2 separate regions of the Homo sapiens genome follow, and region 2 is linked to region 1. The links come from fine-mapping of genetic effects on gene expression. A gene starts in region 1. The other region holds a variant in brackets. All regions are shown on one strand. Distances are between the middles of the regions.

Region 1 (4,390 bases):
ACTGCAGCCTCTGCCTCCCAGGCTCAAGCAATTCTTCTGCCTCAGCCTCCTGAGTAGCTGGGATTACAGGCATGTGCCACCACGCCCAGCTAATTCTTATATTTTTAGTAGAGACAGGGTTTCACCATGTTGGCCAGGCTAGTCTCGAACTCCTGACCTCATGATCCGCCTGCCTCGGCCTCCCAAAGTGCTGGGATTACAGGCATGAGCCACGGCGCCCGGCCAAGAACCTTCACTTTTAAGTTTGCAGTATTAATGTTGAATTAACAGACTGGCATACTTATCTATGACACAGGTAATGAAGGAAAAAAAACACCTCAGTAGACTCAACAAGGATATCACAAGTAATGACTAGCAAGCAACATTTTTTGAAAAATAAAATGTAGGCATAATTTCAGGCACAAGAAATGCTAAACGAAATAGCTTACTTTTACCTTAAGACTTTCCCCAAATTATGTGATTTCATTCCTACAAGGACAAGAATCACAGCTTACTACCAGCCATGCAAATGTCATTTTAGGAGTACACACAAGTTTTACCCAGTATCTTAGTTCACATTTGTCCCAATTAATTAAGTCTATGTATAATTTAAAAGCGAAAACTAGATATGTCAATTTTGTTTTCCTTCTAACTAATCCAAAGTCAAAACTGTTCACTTTACCAAATGAATTAACTGAATACAGTTAATTAAATCTTTTATTTATAATTAAAAATTGGAACACACACTTTCTCACTTAATACCTATTATGTCCTGTTTCCCATACCTCTCTATAAAGTAGAAGTATTTGCTGGAAGACAATAATCTGCTCATTAAGTAGGCACTTAGAAAAAGCAACGATCTGCAACTACTGAAATTCTTATCTGTATATTTCTCTTTTGGGTTACAAGAAAGCACTTCTCTGGCTATTTTCCCAAATAAACTAGGCAAGCCTTGGGAAAGTCACTGCTTAAATCCCACTTTCTGACAGCTTCTCTTCCTCCATAAATGAATTATTGAGAGCCATGTCTACTTCCATCCATTACATAATACATGTCCATCATGGGACCTGTTTTCTGAACAAGAAATAGCTTAAATGACACTAACTGATAAGTAGGGCCAGAGAATACTGTAATCTAACAGGGAGCAAGAATCCAGAAAAGAAGATTCTGATTTACAGTGCTAAGTTGTGAAAGAGTGATGTGAAGAACATTGAACACTGCTTACTCTAATATTTCCATACAAAGTGACACACCTGCCCCCAAAATGTTTTTAAAGCACTTGACTCCAAGAACATTTCTCAGAAATTGAGGAGCCTACCAAAAAAAAAGAGTTCCATTTCATTTTAAAGTGTTTTAATAAAGACTGCAAGAAACATAACTGCAAATGAGAAATAAAATTTCAACAATTTAGCACTGAACACAAAATGTCTAAAAGTCAAGGTGTACTGAGCAAGCAACACGCTATAAAAGACGGTTGTACTTTAAAACATTTAAGCATTTTTCATATAATTAGCTCCAACAGAACTATTCCAATTGTTCACTTTATCCACCCAAAGCAGTCAACCACAACCACCTGCAACTATTATTCAGCAATGTGCCTTCCAAAGCAACCACCTGAGTTTGGGGCCTTCTCTCAAGGGGCCAGGATAAAGCCTGTAAAAGGGTGGTATAAAGAGATCTTTTAGGCATTGGGGGGAAAAAAAACTGGAAGACACCACCTTGAAGGAGCTAAGCGTAATGCGACCCAAATGGTGGCTGCCGGAACGAAGTTGTCTAAACCGAAGATCTCCCTCTTCTTCGGTGTAAAACTTTCAGATACATCCACGCTCACAATTTACCTGAGCCAAAGTAAGGGGATTCTCTTCCCTCTCCGACCCCCCACCCACCCCGCCAGAAGAAAAAGAATCGAACCCTAAAGTAGAAACGTGAGATCTAGTGCAATAAAATAGGTTCTGCAACTGCCTCAAAGGCAACATGCACAGCTCATCGTCCTTTTGAAATACACTTCATCTTTTATCTCACCATTTCATCGAAAAGAAAAGAATCATCTTCAGCATTTTACATCACTCACCTAACCCAAAGATCCACCCTGACCGCACCCCAACCTCATGGCTCCCCAATTTCTCCGTCTCCCCACTACCTCGTCCGCGGCTTCACTAGTCCTAAGCCTCCCCCCCTCCGCTCCCCAAGTGCCCAGAGCCCCAGTCCCCACTCCCCCACCTCCCGCCCCAGGATCCCCACATCTACCGCCTCGGCTCCCGCCCGATCCCGGAGCCCGGCTGGGTGGAGCCCGCGGGTGGGCGCCGGTGGTCTGGGTGGGGCCCGCCCCTCCCCACCCCCCGGGCTGCCGAGGAGGGGGAGGGGGTCGCGAAGCCTCACCTACAGCTCCGCCCCTCCCCGGGGGCGCGTTGCCCTGCCCAGCCCAGCCCGGGCCGTGAGCAAGAAGCTGGGTAGGAAAGGCGAAAGCCTCAGCACTAGCGACAGGGGGGAAGCTCTGGGTCCCGCGCGACTTCCGCGCTGTCGCCGCCGCCGCGGCCGTCTCACCGTCCTCAGGGCTGCCGCTACTGCTGCTGCTGCCGCCCAGGCACCGCCGCCGCCGCCACTACCGCCGCCGCCGCCGCCACAGCACGGCCCAGGCGCCCGCGACGTCACCGCGCCCCGCCCCCTGCGCGAGACACCTAGCCCCGCCCCCAGCCCCGCCGCGGGGCGCAGCGCGCCTCCCCGGGCTCCCGGCTCGGCTGCCTCCCTTTCCCTCAGCCTCCCGGGAGCGTGACGCGGCGGCCCGGGGGCCTCCGGGCGCCTTCCGGGGCACGCGGGTGAGGAACTGGGAAGCGGGGGAAATCGGCGCCACGGCGGTCGATTAGCACCGAAACAGAGTGATGGGCGCGGAGCGTCCCTGCACACACACACACACTCACACACACACACACACGACCCCTGCGGCCACGGGAGGGGAGAGCCGGGGTCGGCTCCGCGAGCGCAGGGTGGCGCTTGTCTCCTCCTGCTTGCCGTAGGAAGTGGACGCTGGAAGCCCGAGGAGCCGCTTCGTGTCTTCCCAAACCTAAGCGGCGCCCCACCCCCTACTTCTCGTGGCCCGTTACGCCCGGGGCAGCCAAGCGCCGCGGGAGCAGCGCCGGGATCGACCCTGGCTGCTGGGGGGACGCTTTGTCCCAAGAAAGCTGGTTTTTTGCCCCTTAGCTTCGTGGAACGCGGCCGCGAAATTAGTGGTCTTCTGACCTGAGACTCGCGGGGCTGCGCACACGGGCATCGCCGAGGACCCCAGCAATGGACGTCGTGTCTGTGGTGATCCCGCCAGGACGCGGGGAGCGTGGGCGGAAATTAGTGTCCACGTTCCGACCCTGCGCTGTGCCAAACGCTGCTTCGGGAGCTGTTTATTTAGCCTCCGACAGCTAAGCGAATCGGCGGGCGGCTGGGGCCTGGTGCAACCCGATTTTCTCGTGCAGACTCGCAGCCGGCTTTGGTTTTGTTTTTTGTTTTTTGTTTTTTTTTTGGAGCCATGCAGAGGGTAGCTACAGCCATTAATTTAAGGATGTAGATAAGCTATCTCTAAACCAAGAAAGTAAGAATGGTGTGAATTATATTTATTCCCAGCCTTCCAGTGTTTATTAAAATAATTTTCGGTGTCCTTGAGAGGAGTTAAAAGCCATCATTTTACTCCTGCTTACCTCCGCCACCGTAATTAACCACTTTATACTGCCTCATAATCCCATTAACAAATTGCAGTCGCTCCTCAGCCTTCACATTCATTCACTCACCAGTTTCTACTGTTTCATCCTGCCCGGACTCTTAACTGTTCCCTCCCAGGATCGACATGCACTTGGATCATTGCAGTTTCTGGGCCTGCTGTCATCTCCCCCTTCAGTACTTCCCACATATGACTACCAACTGTTAGACGATGTGCTGCTGCCAGACCAGCCTTTCATTTCTTGGACATCCGGCTATTTACCCAGGAAAAGTCATCCTTTGACTATTTTTCATGACCTTTCTCATCTGACTCGTGATCTGCCCATCTTGTTACTCCCTAGCAGTGTGGTAAGGTAAGAGAAAATTCAACTAGGAGTCAATAGATATTTCTGTTCTCATTCTCCCACTGTCTACTTGTGTGGCCTCAGGCAATTCATTCTACTTGTGGTCTTACTTAACTGTAAAGTGAGGTTTGAAGTAGGTGTCTGAGATACATCATGTCCTTAAAATATGTGGATCTGGAGAATTAAGTTGCTAAGCGCTATGTTATACACGGAAATACTGTCCTAACACAGATTCAGATTTTTGTTTTTTATTTTTTGCCACCACACTGGCAAAAAATATTATTTCCTGCCCTGCTCCAGTTATCTTTTTTAAAACCTACGTTTAGGATTTTTGATTAAAGCTAGCTAACCGAGCACATGTA
Region 2 (4,390 bases), 240 kb before region 1:
AACACATTATAATTGAATTCTGAAAAATCAAAGGCAAAGAGGAAATTTTGAAAGCAGCAGGAGAAAAGCAACCTATAATACAAGGAAACCCGCAACACACATACACACCACCATTACCACCACCACCAAGGCAATCAGTGGATTTCTCAGCAGAAACCTTGCAGATCAGGAGGGAATGAGATGATATAGTCAAAGTGCTAATAGACAAAAACTGCCAGCCAAGAATATTATACATAAGAAAGTTGTTGCTGGGCACAGTGGTTCATGCCTGTAATCCCAGCACTTTAGGAGGCTGAGGTGGGTGGATCATGAGGTCAGGAGATCGAAGACTATCCTGGCTAACACAGTGAAACCCCATCTCTACTAAAAATACAAAAATTAGCTGGGCGTGGTGGCGGGCGCCTGTAGTCCCAGCTACTTGGGAGGCGGAGGCAGGAGAATCGCTAGAACCCGGGAGGCAGAGATTGCAGTGAGCCAAGAACATGCCACTGCACTCCTGCCTGGGCAACAGAGCGAGACTCCGTCTCAAAAAAAAAATTGCTTTACTTCTCTGAGAAACAAATAATACAATATCAAGGAGTCAGAGGTGCCATCAGAGGGAAAAAAAAAAAAAGTTGTTCTTCAGAAATAAAGATGAGATAAAGACATTTCCAGACAAACAAAAGCTGACAGAGTTCATCGCACTAGACCTGCCTTATAAGAAATGCTAAAGGGAGCTGAGTTGAAACTAAAGGACACTAAATAAAAACATGAAAACACATTAAAGTATAAAACTCACTGGTAAAAATAAATATACAGTCAAATTCAGAATACTGCAATGCTGTAATCGTGGTACATAAATCAATTTTAACTAGCATAAAAGTTAAAAGACAAAAGTATAAAAATAACTATAGCTACAATAATTTGTCAATGGGTACACAAATATAAAAAGATGTAAAGTGTGACATCAATAGCATAAACTGTGAAGGAGGGAGACATAAAATTGCAGAATTTTTGTAGGTAATTAAAGTTTAGTTATTACAACCTTAAAACAGCCTAAGATATCTTATGTAACCCTCATAGTAACCACAAAGAAAACTAACCTCCAGTAACATATAAAAGATAGAAAGGAATTAAGCATACAATTACAAAAAAAAAAATCAAATCAGAAAGGAAGGCAGCAAGAGAGAAAGGAACAAAGGACCTACAAAACAGAGAACAACAAAATGGCCTTAACTATCAATAATTACTTTAAATGGATTAAATTCTCCAATCAAAAGATACAGAGTGGCTAACAGACTTTTTTAAGTATCCAACAATATGTTGGCTACAAGAGACTCACTTTAGCTGTAAGGACACACACAGGCTGAAAACAAAAGGATAGAAAAAGATATTCCATGGAAATGGTAACCAAAAAAGAATAGAAATGGGCTTACTTATATCAGACACAATAGACTTTCAGTCACAAGAGACAAGGTTATTATACAACAATAAATGGGTCAATTCATCAAGAGAATATTACAATTGTAAATGTATTAATATATATGCATCCAACCTTAGAGCACCTAAAAATATAAAGCAAATACTAACAGAACTGAAGGGAGAAACAGACAGCAATACAATAACAAGAGAGGACTTTACTACCCCACTTTTAACAATGGATAGGTCAAACAGTCTGTCAATAAGAAAACATTAGACCTGAATAAGAGTATAGAGCAAATAACAGACTATATGAAACATCCATCCAACAGCAGCAGAAAACATATCCTTCTCAAGTACACATAGAGCATTCCCCAGAATATAACATATGTTAGGCCACAAAATTAAGTGTTAAATCCAACTATGTTAAAATCATATCAAGCATGTTTTTCAACTACAATGGTATAAAATTAGAAATCAATAATAGGAGGGAAATTTAAAAATTCACAAATACATGGAAAGTAAACAATATACTCCTGACAAAACCAATGGGTCAAAGAAGAAATCAAAAGGAGAGTCAAAAAGTCAGGCCAAGCGCGGTGGCTCACGCCTTTAATCCCAGCACTTTGGGAGACTGAGGTGGGCGGATCACTTGAGGTCAGGGGT[T/C]TGAGACTAGCCTGGCCAACATGGTGAAACCCCATCTGTATTAAGAATTAGCCAGGCGTGGTGGCACATGCCTGTAATCCCAGCTACTCAGGAGGCTGAGGCAGGAGAATCGCTTGAACCCGGGAGGCGGTGGTTGCAGTGAGCCAAGATTGTGCCATTGCACTCTAGCCTGGGTGACACAGTGAGACTCCAACTCAAAAAAAAAAAAAAAAAAAAGAGTCAAAAAGTATCTTCAGGCAAATAAAATGAAAACACAGCATTCTAAAACCTACAGAATACAGCAAAGCAGTTCAAAGAGACAAGTTTATGGCAATAAACTTTAAGAAAATAAAGATCTCAAACAACTTAACCTTACACCTCAAAAAAATAGAAAAAAGAACAACCTAAGCCCAAAGTTAGCTAAAGTAAGGAAATAATAAAGAAATAAATGGGAGACCAGAAAGAAAATTCTAAAAAATCAACATAATAGTTGTTTGTCAAAAGATAATCAAAATTGACAAGCTTTGAGCTAGAATAACTGAGAAAGAGAATTCAAATAAAGAAAATCAGACATGAAAGAGAAGACATTACAACTGATCCACAGGAGTACAAGGAGAATATTATGAAAATTAATACACCAACAACTTGGATAACCTAGAAGAAATGAATAAATTTCTAGAAACATATACCCTAAAGACTGAATCATTAAAACAACAACAACAACAAAATTGAAGACTTTTTTTTTAAAAGAGATTCATTCTTGCTTTGTTGTCCAGGCTGGGGCACAGTGACACCATCATAGTTCATCAAAATTCTGGGGTCAAAGGATCCTCCTGCCTCAGCCTCTCAAGTTGCTGCAACCACAGGCATGCACCGCTGCAACTAGTTAATTTTTTATTTTTTTGTAGAGACCAGTCTTGCTATGTTACCCAGTTTGGTCTCCAACTCCTGGTCTCAAGTGATCCTCCCACCTTGGCCTCCCAAAATGCTGGGATTACACACTGTACCTGGACAAGTGAAGACATATTAATAGCTGAACAGACCAATAACAAGAAAGAAGACTAAAGCAGTAGTCAAAAACCTCCCAACAAAGAAAAGCTGAGGACCAGATGGCTTCATAGCTGATTTCCACCAAACACTTAAGCACAAGCTAGTACCAATTCTTCTCAAATTCATCCAAAGAATTAAAGAGGCAGGAACACTTCCAAACTCATTTTAAAAGGCCAGTATTGCCCTTATACCAAGGCCAGATAAGGATACTATAAGAAAAGAAAATTACAGGTCAATAGTACTGATGAAACTAGACGCAAAACTTTCAACAAAATACTAGGAAACTGAATTCAACAGCACATTAAAAGGACCATTCACTATAATCAAGTGGTTATTTGCAAGGATAGTTCAAAATACACAAATTAATAAACGTCATACACCACACTAACAGAATGAACGATAAAAATCACACAATCATCTGAAAAAGTATTTGACAAAATTAAATATCCTTTCATGATAAAGACTCTCAATAAATTAGGTAAAGAAGGAATGTACCTCAACACAACAATAAAGGCCATATATGATTAGCCCACAGCCGATAAATCTAACGGTGAAAAGTTGAAAGCTTTTCCCCTAACATCAGGAACAAGAAAAGGGAGTCCACTCTCACCACCTCTTCAACAGAATATTCGAAGTCCTAGTCAATTAGGCAAGAAAAAGAACTAAATGGCACACAAACTGGAAAATACAAGATAAACTGTCTCTATTTGCAAATGACATGACCTCATACATAGAAAACCCTAAAGCCTGCATAAAAAAATTGTTAAAAACTATTATAGTAAGTTCAGTAAAGTTGCAGAATATAAAATATACAAAAATTAGTTGTATATTTTTGTATACAACTGGCTGAAAGATTTGTACACTAAAAACTAGAAGACAAAGGAATTGAAAAAGATACATACAAATGGAAAGATAATCTGTTCATGAATTGAAACAATTAATGTTGTTAAAATGTCCATACTACTCAAAGCAATCTATGGATTCAATGCAGCCTCTATCAAAATACCAATGGCATTGTTTCACAAAAACAGAAAAAAGAATCCTAAACTTCGTATGGAACCATAAAAGACCGTGAATAGCCAATTGTGAGTAAGAAGAACAAAGCTGGAGTCATCACACTTTCGGATTTCAAACTATGTTACAAATCTAAACACTATGGTACCAGCATGAAAACAGACATCTATACCAATGGAACAGAATAGAAAACCCAGAAATAAATGCATGCATTTACAGTTAATTGGTCTTTGATAAAGATGCCAAGAACACACATTGGGGAAAGTATAATCTCTTCAATAAA

Alleles and levels. Alleles are on the strand shown, and positions count from the first base shown. SD is a standard deviation of normalised expression in the study named.
For the expression in lymphoblastoid cells of the gene that starts at base 2,623 in region 1, C is the high allele of the variant in region 2 and T is the other (large effect, 1.1 SD a copy in GEUVADIS).

What was found. PIP is the estimated chance that this variant, and not a neighbour inherited with it, causes the effect.
Region 2: its variant is the best candidate, but not a certain one, in a credible set for the expression of ERC1 in lymphoblastoid cells (GEUVADIS, PIP 0.67).

Annotation. Positions count from the first base shown.
Region 1 is chr12:989,456-993,845 of GRCh38, reverse strand. ERC1 (ELKS/RAB6-interacting/CAST family member 1) reads right to left here and starts at 2,623. Exons shown (of 19, transcript NM_178040.4): 1 at 2,524-2,623. It also overlaps a transcript of RAD52 not described here. RefSeq lists silencers at 1,809-2,103, 2,309-2,818, 2,839-2,948, 3,359-3,408 and enhancers at 2,107-2,668, 3,230-3,792.
Region 2 is chr12:1,227,895-1,232,284 of GRCh38, reverse strand. All of the region lies in intron 12 of ERC1 (ELKS/RAB6-interacting/CAST family member 1), which reads right to left. Among named protein-coding and RNA genes, the nearest start is that of ERC1, 240 kb to the right of the region's middle. The variant T/C (reference allele first, on the strand shown) is at 2,065.